Regions from separate parts of the Homo sapiens genome. Here region 1 is linked to region 2. The links come from fine-mapping of genetic effects on gene expression. A gene starts in region 2. The other region holds a variant in brackets. All regions are shown on one strand. Distances are from middle to middle. Region 1 overlaps HAVCR2 (hepatitis A virus cellular receptor 2). Region 2 holds the start of HAVCR1 (hepatitis A virus cellular receptor 1).

Region 1 (5,379 bases), 27 kb after region 2:
TGTGCCTGTTAGTTACATATGTATACATGTGCCATGCTGGTGTGCTGCACCCATTAACTCGTCATTTAGCATTAGGTATATCTCCTAATGCTATCCCTCCCCCCTTCCCCCACCCCACAACAGTCCCCAGAGTATGATGTTCCCCTTCCTATGTCCATGTGTTCTCATTGTTCAATTCCCATCTATGAGTGAGAACATGCGGTGTTTGGGTTTTTGTCCTTGCAATAGTTTACTGAGAATGATGATTTCCAATTTCATCCATGTCCCTACAAAGGACATGAACTCATCATTTCTTATGGCTGCATAGTATTCCATGGTGTATATGTGCCACATTTTCTTAATCCGGTCTATCATTGTCAGACATTTGGGTTGGTTCCAAGTCTTTGCTATTGTGAATAGTGCCACAATAAACATACGTGTGCATGTGCCTTTATAGCAGCATGATTTATAGTCCTTTGGGTATATACCCAGTAATGGGATGGTGGGGTCAAATGGTATTTCTAGTTCTAGATCCCTGAGGAATTGCCACACTGACTTCCACAAAGGTTGAACTACTTTACAGTCCCACCAACAGTGTAAAAGTGTTCCTATTTCTCCACATCCTCTCCAGCACCTGTTGTTTCCTGACTTTTTAATGATTGCCATTCTAACTGGTGTGAGATGGTATCTCATTGTGGTTTTGATTTGCATTTCTCTGATGGCCAGTGATGATGAGCATTTTCTAATGTGTCTTTTGGCTGCATAAATGTCCTCTTTTGAGAAGTGTCTGTTCATATCCTTTGCCTACTTTTTGATGGGGTTGTTTGTTTTTTTCTTGTAAATTTGTTTGAGTTCAAACAGAGCCAAATCATGAGTGAACTCCCATTCACAATTGCTTCAAAGAGAATAAAATACCTAGGAATCCAACTTACAAGGGACGTAAAGGACCTCTTCAAGGAGAACTACAAACCACTGCTCAATGAAATAAAAGAGGATACAAACAAATGGAAGAACATTCCATGCTCATGGGTAGGAAGAATCAATATGGTGAAAATGGCCATACTGCCCAAGGTAATTTATAGATTCAATGCCATCCCCATCAAGCTACCAATGACTTTCTTCACAGAATTGGAAAAAACTACTTTAAAGTTCATATGGAACCAAAAAAGAGCCCGCATCACCAAGTCAATCCTAAGCCAAAAGAACAAAGCTGGAGGCATCACGCTACCTGACTTCAAACTATACTACAAGTCTACAGTAATCAAAACAGCATGGTACTGGTACCAAAACAGAGATATAGATCAATGGAACAGAACAGAGCCCTCAGAAATAATGCCGCATATCTACAACTATCTGATCTTTGACAAACCTGAGAAAAACAAGCAATGGGGAAAGGATTCCCTATTTAATAAATGGTGCTGGGAAAACTGGCTAGCCATATGTAGAAAGCTGAAACTGGATCCCTTCCTTACACCTTATACAAAAATTAATTCAAGATGGATTAAAGACTTAAACGTTAGACCTAAAACCCTAAAAACCCTAGAAGAAAACCTAGACATTACCATTCAGGACATAGGCATGGGCAAGGACTTCATGTCTAAAACACCAAAAGCAATGGCCACAAAAGCCAAAATTGACAAATGGGATCTAATTAAACTAAAGAGCTTCTGCACAGCAAAAGAAACTACCATCAGAGTGAACAGGCAACCTATAAAATGGGAGAAAATTTTCGCAACCTACTCATCTGACAAAGGGCTAATATCCAGAATCTACAATGAACTCAGACAGAGCGAGATTCTATCTCAAAAAACAAACAAACAAACAAAAAACAGTAAAAAAAAATTTTTAGTAAGTTCCAATTGTGTGTCAGAATTGTGCTAGGCGCAGGGGGCAACAATAAGCAAGACAGATCAAGCCTATACCGTCTTGAAATTTAAGTTTAGGGACCACTCTCTGTCAAAGGATCCAGCGCTGGTAATATAGATTGCTGAAGGCCTTTGCCTTCTTTCCACCAGGCAACAGAATTTGTGTCCCCGTCACTGCTTCTTCTTCTGTGAAAAATATAGCTTCAGTTTGGTCCACGAATACAGAAGTTGGTCAGAGATATTTTCTTTCAAGCACACAACAAGCAAAACTTGGCCAATACACACCAATCAAATGCACTTC[G/C]TTTTTCCCTGGGAGCTCCTGCCACATCTCAGCCCTGCAGGGCAGTCTTCATAAGGGAGACAAAAGAAGGGCTATGCACTGGCACTGACAGTTGGGCAGGCAGTGCTCAAATAAGCCTAAATCTCAACATTCCAAGGGAATCTTCAAGATCAAGGTAGACCTGGTCCAGTCATCTCTTAATCTTTTAAGGATCACTGGCTGGATGTGGTGGCTCACGCCTGTAATCCCAGTGCTTTGGGAGGCCGAGGCAGGCAAATCATGAGGTCAGGAGTTTGAGACCACACTGGCCAACATGGTGAAACCCTGTCTCTACTAAAAATACAACAAATTAGCTGGGCATGGTGGTGCATGCCTGTAATCCCAGCCACTCAGGAGGCTGAGGCAGGAGAATCGCTTGAACCCAGGAGGCGGAGCTTGCAGTGAGCCGAGATTGTGCCATTGCACTCCAGCCTGGGCAACAGAGCAAGACTCCATCTCAAAAACAAAAAACAAAAAGGGATCACAGATCTCTTTGAAAATCAGTGGCCCCTTTAGACTTTCTGTGCCAAAAAAGTTATGCTTTCACCTCAGCACCCAGTTTTCCCTAGTTTATCTGAAGTTTCATGGACATATGATGTGCCCGAATTTCCTGGAGCTCCAGAGACCCCACGTCAAGAATTCCTAGTGTATATAAAAGCCCGTTTGAGCTCTAACATCCATGATTAACAGTCTCTGGGTTGGGTAACTCTGTTGGCTTAAATACAGAGGCAATGACATGCCTGTTTAAGTTCAGTGCAGGTCCCAGTTCAATTCCCATGTGAGTCATTATCTTCTGAAAATGGGAAAACTCTGCTCCATAGCAGTGGACAGAACCTCCAAAACCAGTCAGGTGACACAGCTCATAGTTTCTGAAAAAGACAAAACACCAAGCTCAAAAATAAGGTGGTTGGATCTATGGCATTGCAAAGCGACAACCCAAAGGTTGTGAGGGTTGCTGCCTGCTGCTGACATAGCAATAATACTCATTGGGCTCCTCCACTTCATATACGTTCTCTTCAATGGTATAGATGTTTTCTTCTGAGCGAATTCCCTCTGCTACTGCATTTGCCAATCCTGAGGGAGGGAGGTTGGCCAAAGAGATGAGGCTGTGGAAATAAAGTGTTGCGGTTGAGTTAAGCATTTCCCAGGTAACACGGAATAGAGTTAAGAGAATAGGCTTTCCCAAAGAGACAGCAACTAAATATAGTGCATGATCTTTGATCAGATGCTGAACAAGTGGAAAAGCCAAGAAATAGCAATAAAATACTATGGGGAAACAATTGAGAAAATGTCCATTAATTTTAATTTTCTTAGGTATAACAACAGCATTGTGATAGCTAAGAGAATATTTTTATTTCTCGGAGGTGCAGGCTGAAGTTTAGGTGAAGTATCAAGATGTCTGCAATTATGTACACATTTAGATTTTCAAAAAATGGGCCGGGCGCCGTGGCTCACGCCTGTAATCCCAGCACTTTGGGAGGCTGAGCCTGGCAGATCACGAGGTCAGGAGTTCGAGACCAGCCTGGCCAACATAGTGAAACCCCGTCTCTACTAAACATACAAAAAATTAGCCAGCGTGGTGGCATGCACCTGTAATCCCAGCTACTTGGGAGGCTAATGCAGAGAATCGCTTGAACCCGAGAAGCAGAGGTTATAGTGAGCCGAGGTTGTGCCACTGCACTCCAGCCTGGGTGACAGAGCCAGACTCCGTCTCAAAAAAAAAAAAAAAAAATTATTAATGCTTTAGATAGCATTCAATGGACAGAGGTTTTTGTTTTGTTTTGTTTGATGCTGGGTCTTTCTCTGTCACCCAGGTGGGAATGCAGTGGCACAATCATGGCTCATTGCAGCCTTCATCTCCTGTGCTCCAGCAATCCTTCCACCTAATGTTTCCATTTTTTTGTAGAGAAGAGGTCTCATCATGTTGCCCAGGCTGGTCTTGAACTCCTGGGCTCATGTGATCCTCCCACCTCAGCCTCCCAAAGTGCTGGGCTTATAGGCGTAAGCCACAGCACCTAGCCCAGAATCATTTTTGTAATCCAAATATATTGTATTCCATTCATGTGCCAAACATCACTAAAAGTCTAAAATCTAGTAAGTTATGTAAGCCATACCTATTTGAAATGGATGTGTGGGTGTGTATAATCAGGAACGAAGGTCAAGACAGGAGTCTATAACAGACTAGCAGTTCTCAGCCCTGACTGTTCACTAGAATCACCTGGAGAGCTTTTAGAACAATTTCTATGCTTAGGCTTCATCCCCAGAGATTCTGATTCAGTTGCTCTGGGGTTGGCCCTGCATTAGTACACTTCAGTGCCTGGGTGATTCTAATAGGAAACTAAAGTTGAAAATGCCTGGGCTGTTTACAGAAATGCTGAGAACAGATACTGGGTTTCTTGCTCACTTCTGTAACGCCTAAGTGCAGCCCAGACCCTGGATATAATAGGAGCTCAATCCGTTGATGTTTCAGTTCAGTGGAAAAACCATTAATATCGAGATGAATAAGCATGTTGTATTATTAGGGTGATAAATTCTATACCTTAACTTTAGAACTAAAGAAGCTAGAGGTGTCAGGAAGTACACACAGTAGCATGTTACATTTTCACTTCATAACTAGACCTAGAGAAAGAAGGAAGTATAAACTCAGATCTCAAAGCCCCAGGACAGGATTTCTCAGAGAAAAGATCAGACATGTTAGAGTAGGGACTTCCAAGATTCTCACCTTTTCCCAACCCCATTCCATTATTCTTACCTTAAATTCTGTATCTTCTCTTTGCTATGAGAATACCCTAGTAAGGGGGAAACAAAAGCCAATAAAAATGCATTCATAAAATAAATGAGACAAGAAATCAAATAGGTTCACTGGAAGCACGCATAGTTTAGGGAAATCTGGTCTCATCTCAGATTGAGTTAAATGAAACTCTCAACGTGTGCCTTAGATAGTTATATGGACTGTGTTAGAAAATAATAATAAAGATGCATTTTTCTTATTTAACAAATATTATGAGACCTCTACTATGTGTCTGGCAGTTTGCCTGGCACAAGGAACACAGGAACATAAAAGTGAATTGTGAGCCCTAATTTCACGAAGCTCACGCTCTCCTGTGGGAGACCAAAGAAATAAAAGAAAACAGTACCCCAGACCCAAGACCAGCCTGACCAACATGGAGAAACCCCGTCTCTACTAAAAATACAAAATTAGCTGGATGTGGTGGC
Region 2 (5,379 bases):
TCATTTTTTTGGATTACACATATAATGCATGCTATTACAATTTGGTTATAGAAGTATATAATGAGAGATTATTTTTCCCCCATAATCCCAAAGGCATATATCACTCCAGAAATTTGTGTTTAAAAATTAGGATATGTCTATTTTACTCTTTCCTTATCTCATAGAATGTTTTGAATTAAAGTGTTTATTTCAAAATAAAATACTTAGGCCAGATGTGGTGGCTAACGCCTATAATCCCAGCACTTTGGGAGACTGAGGTGGGAGAATCACTTGAGCCCAGGAGGTCGAGGTTGCAGTGAATCAAGATTGCCCAACTAGGCCAGGCGCGGTGACTCACGCCTATAATTCCAGCACTTTGGGAGGCCGAGGCAGGTGGATCACAAGGTCAGGAGTTCAAGATCAGCTTGGCCAAGATGGGGAAACCTTGTCTCTACTAAAAATACAAAAAAATTAGCTGGTAGTGGTGGCAGGTACCTGTAATCCCAGCTACTTGGGAGACTGAGGCAGAGAATTGCTTGAACCCAGGAGGCGGAGGCTGCAGTGAGCCGAGATCACGCCACTGAACTCTAGCCTGGGCGACAGAGTGAGACTCTGTCTCAAAAAAAAAAAGATTGCCCTACTGCACTCCAGAGTGAGACCTCATGAAGAGAGAGAGAGAGAGAGAGAGAGGAAAGAAAGAAAGAAAGAAAGAAAGAAAGAAAGAAAGAAAGAAAGAAAGAAAGAAAGAAAGAAAGAAAGAAAGAAAGAGAATTGAATGTGGCTGAAAAAAATCGGAAGGCACAAAAAAATACAATAAGGATTAACTCTCCCTCCACCTCCCACCCTCTGCCCCCATCCCACATTACCCACTGTCACTATTTCCTATATACATGTGTCTATGCATATACATCTAACCACACCCTTTTTGTTTAAACACAAAGGGCAGCCTGTGACACACTGTGCTGCATCTTGCCTTGTTCATTTAGCCATGAATGTTGTAATTCACAGCAGTTAAGCAATTTCTTTGGCCTAAAACTTTATTCTGGTCCTGCTCACTAGTTAACTCATAGCCATACAACGGTACCCAAAGAACATCTACATTAATCCACCACCACCATCCCCTCCCCTTCCCCTACCCCATTCTCTGGCTTCTAACCCCCCTCTACTCCCTTCTTCCCGCCCAGGGCACCTACTCACTTACCTGCCAGATGTAGGATGAGGCTTAAGATGACCACTTGAGGATGCATTATGGGATCAGCCTGAAGGAAAATGAGCAGACAGGCTGGTTGGTACCCTCCACCAGATGGTATCTGATCAAGTCTTAAATCTCAGATTGCAACTTATCTTTTCACCCAGTTGGTTGATTCATATGAGCCTGCTCTGCTGGAAATGAGAGAAGACCACATATAACGGCTTCAGAGCTCTGTTAGTTCCCTGCAGCTGAGAGCTCTGTGCCTTCCAAAGGACAGGGAAAGCTGTCCACAGAAACAGCCCCTGACTTCCCAGCTTCTTCCCCACACATAACCGCCAAACTGACTCCTGGTCCTGATACAGGGTATCAGGGGAACAAACAAAAAGGAAACAGGGCCGGGCGCGGTGGCTCAAACCTGTAATCCTAGCACTTTGGGAGGCCAAGGCGGGCAGATCACGAAGTCAGGAGATCGAGACCATCCTGGCTAAAAGGGTGAAACCCCGTCTCTACTAAAAATACAAAAAATTAGCCGGGCGTGGTCACTGGCGCCTGTAGTCCCAGCTACTCGGGAGGCTGAGGCAGGAGAATGGCGTGAACCCGCGGGAGGCGGAGCTTGCGGTGAGCCGAGATCGCGCCACTGCACTCCAGCCTGGGCGACAGAGCAAGACTCCGTCTCAAAAAACAAAACAAAAAAAAAGAAAAGAAAAGGAAACTGGAAGCAGAGAACCAGCGTGGCTCAATGGCAGCACGAGAGCAAATGCCAGCCTTCCAGTGGCAGAGATGCACTTGCTTTTCAGAGTAAACTGGGCCTCTGGTGGACGTGGAGCTTTTCCTACTCAGTGGCCACAACGACTTATCCCTAGCCTTAACAGTCATATTGCCAAGTTTGCCATTAGCAAGAGAAATTGAGAGTGAATGTGAATCACTGTGCCTAACCTTTCATGCTCCTGTACAACATGCTTCAGACTACACCTCCTTACCAAGGGACTTCAAGAGAATGCTTCAGGAAACAGAAGTCTGGAGCAGACTTACGTTCAGATCCAGGCTCTGTCACTCACAATGCTGGGTAACCCTGAGAGTTCCTGAGTTCTCTTCAAACCTCTATTTCCTCAGTTGTAAAATAGCACTAAAAATGCTTCCTCTATCTCCCACCAAGGATTGATATAATAAGCAAAAAGGGCCACGGAAGAACTTGGAAAACTAAACCTACATCATATGCAGTAATAGCACTAGCTGAGGTTTTTGGAGAATACTATATAGCAGGCTCTGTGTCAAGCACCCACATGCGTTAAATCGGGCTGTTGACTTCTGCTGTTAATCATTAAACCATACAAACATGAGTAAGCTTGCCTAGTACTTCATTAACTCCTCTTCTGGTCTAAGAATTCAGTAACTTCCAAGGAGGCAGTGGTGGTCTGTATCTTGCAGCTCATGACAGGGTTCATGGGGAAGTGGATGATCTCAGCATAGTGTTTTGTATGGCAGCGTTTAAAAATTCATTTCTTGACCGGGCATGGTGGCTCGTGCCTGTAACCCCAGCACTTTGGGAGGCCGAGTAGGCCAGTCACCTGAGGTCGGGAGTTCAAGACCAGCCTGGCTAACACGGTGAAACCCCGACTCTACTAAAAATACAAAAATTAGCTGGGGGTGGTGGCGGGCGCCTGTAATCCCAGCTACTTAGGAGGCTGAGGTAGAAGAATTGCTTGAACCTGGAAGGTGGAGGTTGCAGTGAGCCGAGATCAAGCCATTGCACTCTAGCCTGGACAACAAGAACAAAACTCCATCTCAAAAATAAAAATAAAAATTCATTTCTTGCCAGGCACAGTGGCTCACGCCTGTAATCCCAACACTTTGGGAGGCCAAGGCAAGTGGATCACCTGAGGTAAGGAGTTTGAGACCAACCTGGGCAACATAGCAAGACTCCCTCTCTGCAAAAAAAACGAACAAAAAATATAGTCAGGCCTTGTGTACCTGACCGTAGTCCCAGCTACTCAGGAGGCTGAGGCAGGAGGGTTGCTTGAGCCCAGCAGTTGGAGGCTATGATTGTGCCACTGCACACCAGCCGGGGTGACAGAGCAAGACCCTGTTTCTTAAGGAAAAAAAGATTGAAAAAAAAAAGCTAATTCAATTCAACCAGTTATTACTAACATATTGAGCTGATGGGACATGACTCAATATACTAGGGACGTCAAAAATCCAGACTTGTGCAATCGGGCAGGGACATGGGTAAGTAAGCAACTAATGAAATCAGGATAAGTGAGGTAAAGGTAAATATATAATCAGACTACATCATTCCCCCACTTATAACCCTCTCATAACTCTCTCAGAAAAATAATAATAATAATAATAATAATAATTCCTAAATCTTTACTCAAATTACTGAAGCCCTGGTGGTCTGGCCCTGACCTACCCCATAGATTTCTTCTACCACTCTCTCCCCTGCTGACTCAGCCCCAGCTACTAGAGCTTTCTTTCCAACTTGCCTCAACCCTAAGGCCTTTTCCGTGGCTGTGTTCTCCATCTAGCTCCCCAGCCCCACCATTTTCACTTTTTTCCTTTTCATTTTTATCCCGGCTTAAATATGACCTCCCTGGACATTTTTCACAGGTCCTTCAATCTAAAGTAGCCAACCAGTCCCTCTCACTATTATTATCTTGTTTTCCTTAATCCATTTTATCTGTGTGTGCAATATATGTGGTGTCTGTCTCTATTCCCTCCTATAGAGTGCTGCCCGGTAGAATTTTAGTAATGGAGTTATTCTGGTAACGGAGTTATTCTGGAACTGATGAGCCACAGAGAGCCAAGACAGGGATGTGGAGCCAGTGCTCTGAGATGTTACATAACTGTACAATTCCATAGGATTTGAATTTGAATTCCATAGGATCGATTCTGTCTCCAGTAGAATATTGGTTACAGAGTTATTCTGTGTGAGTGTCGTGCACTACAGCAGCCACTAGCCACATATGACTATTGAGCACTTGAAATGTGGCTAAGGCAACCAAGGCATTTTTAATTTTTTTTTTTTCCAAGACAGAGCCTGACTCTGTCACCCAGGCTGGAGTGCAGTGTCACAATCTCAGCTCAGTGCAACCTCCATCTCCTGGGTTTAAGTGATTCTCTTGCCACAGTCTCCTGAGTAGCTGGGACTACAGACACGCGCCACCATGCCTGGCTAATTTTTGTATTTTTAGCAGAGGTGGAGTTTCACCATGTTGGCCAGGCTGGGCTGGAACTCCTGGCCTCAAGTGATACGCTCATCTCAACTTCCAAAAGTGCTGGAATTACAGGTGTGAGCCGCCATGCCTGGCCTAAAAATTTTTATTTAATTTCATTTTAATTAAAATTTCAGATTGCTTGAGCCCAGGAGACAGTCTTCGGGGAGTTGAGATGGCACCACTGCACTCAAGCCTTAGATGACAGAGCTTTCAAAAAAATAAATTAATTAAAAACAAAAAAATAAAATTTAAATTGTCACACATAGTGACTGTGTTGTGTGGCACCCAACTCCAGACCATAAACTCCTTTAAGGCAATTTAAGTGTTGAAGCCAGGCATGGTTGCTCACACCTGTAATCCAAAGGAGGCCGAGGTGGGAGGATCACTTGAGGTCAGGGGTTCCAAACCAGCCTGGCCAACATGGTGAAACCCAACTCTACCAAAAATGCAAAAATTAGCCAGGCGTGGTGGCGGGTGCCTGTAATCCCAGCTACTCAGGAGGCTGAGGCAAGAGAATCGCCTGAACCCGGGAGGCAGAATTTACCCTGAGCGGAGATCATGCCACTGCACTCTGGCCTGGGCCACAGAGTGAGACTTCTCAAAAAAAAAAAAGTTATTAATTGAATAGATAAACAAATGGAAACACAAACCCATAGGGAAAGACCATTCATTTTGATGACGGAATGTGGGGGGTGGGAAGAATTTCTTAAAAAGTGACATGTGAGAAGAATGGGTGGAGGGTGTTTCAACTGGAGGAAATGATGAGCCAGAGAGAGCCAGGACAGGGATGTGGAGCCAAGGCTCTGAGATGTTACATAACTGTACAATTCCATAGGGTTGAATTTTCTGACACAGGACCATCTCCCATGAGAGACGCCTGTGTTCTAAAGACTCCCAAACAATATAGCACAGTGGATTTTTTTAATGAGCTATACAACCTCCAGGGATCACTACTCTTTAGGGCAAACTTCATGACCCCCCTGAAGGATGCAT

The links. PIP is the estimated chance that this variant, and not a neighbour inherited with it, causes the effect.
Region 1: its variant is the best candidate, but not a certain one, in a credible set for the expression of HAVCR1 in blood mononuclear cells (TOPMed, PIP 0.58).

The regions. Positions count from the first base shown.
Region 1 is chr5:157,084,026-157,089,404 of GRCh38, forward strand. It overlaps HAVCR2 (hepatitis A virus cellular receptor 2), which reads right to left. Exons shown (of 7, transcript NM_032782.5): 6 at 4,916-4,952; 7 at 1,807-3,269. The coding sequence ends at 3,077. Among named protein-coding and RNA genes, the nearest start is that of HAVCR2, 22 kb to the right of the region's middle. The variant G/C (reference allele first, on the strand shown) is at 2,146.
Region 2 is chr5:157,056,718-157,062,096 of GRCh38, forward strand. HAVCR1 (hepatitis A virus cellular receptor 1) reads right to left here and starts at 2,399. Exons shown (of 9, transcript NM_001173393.3): 1 at 2,204-2,399; 2 at 1,181-1,238. The coding sequence starts at 1,226.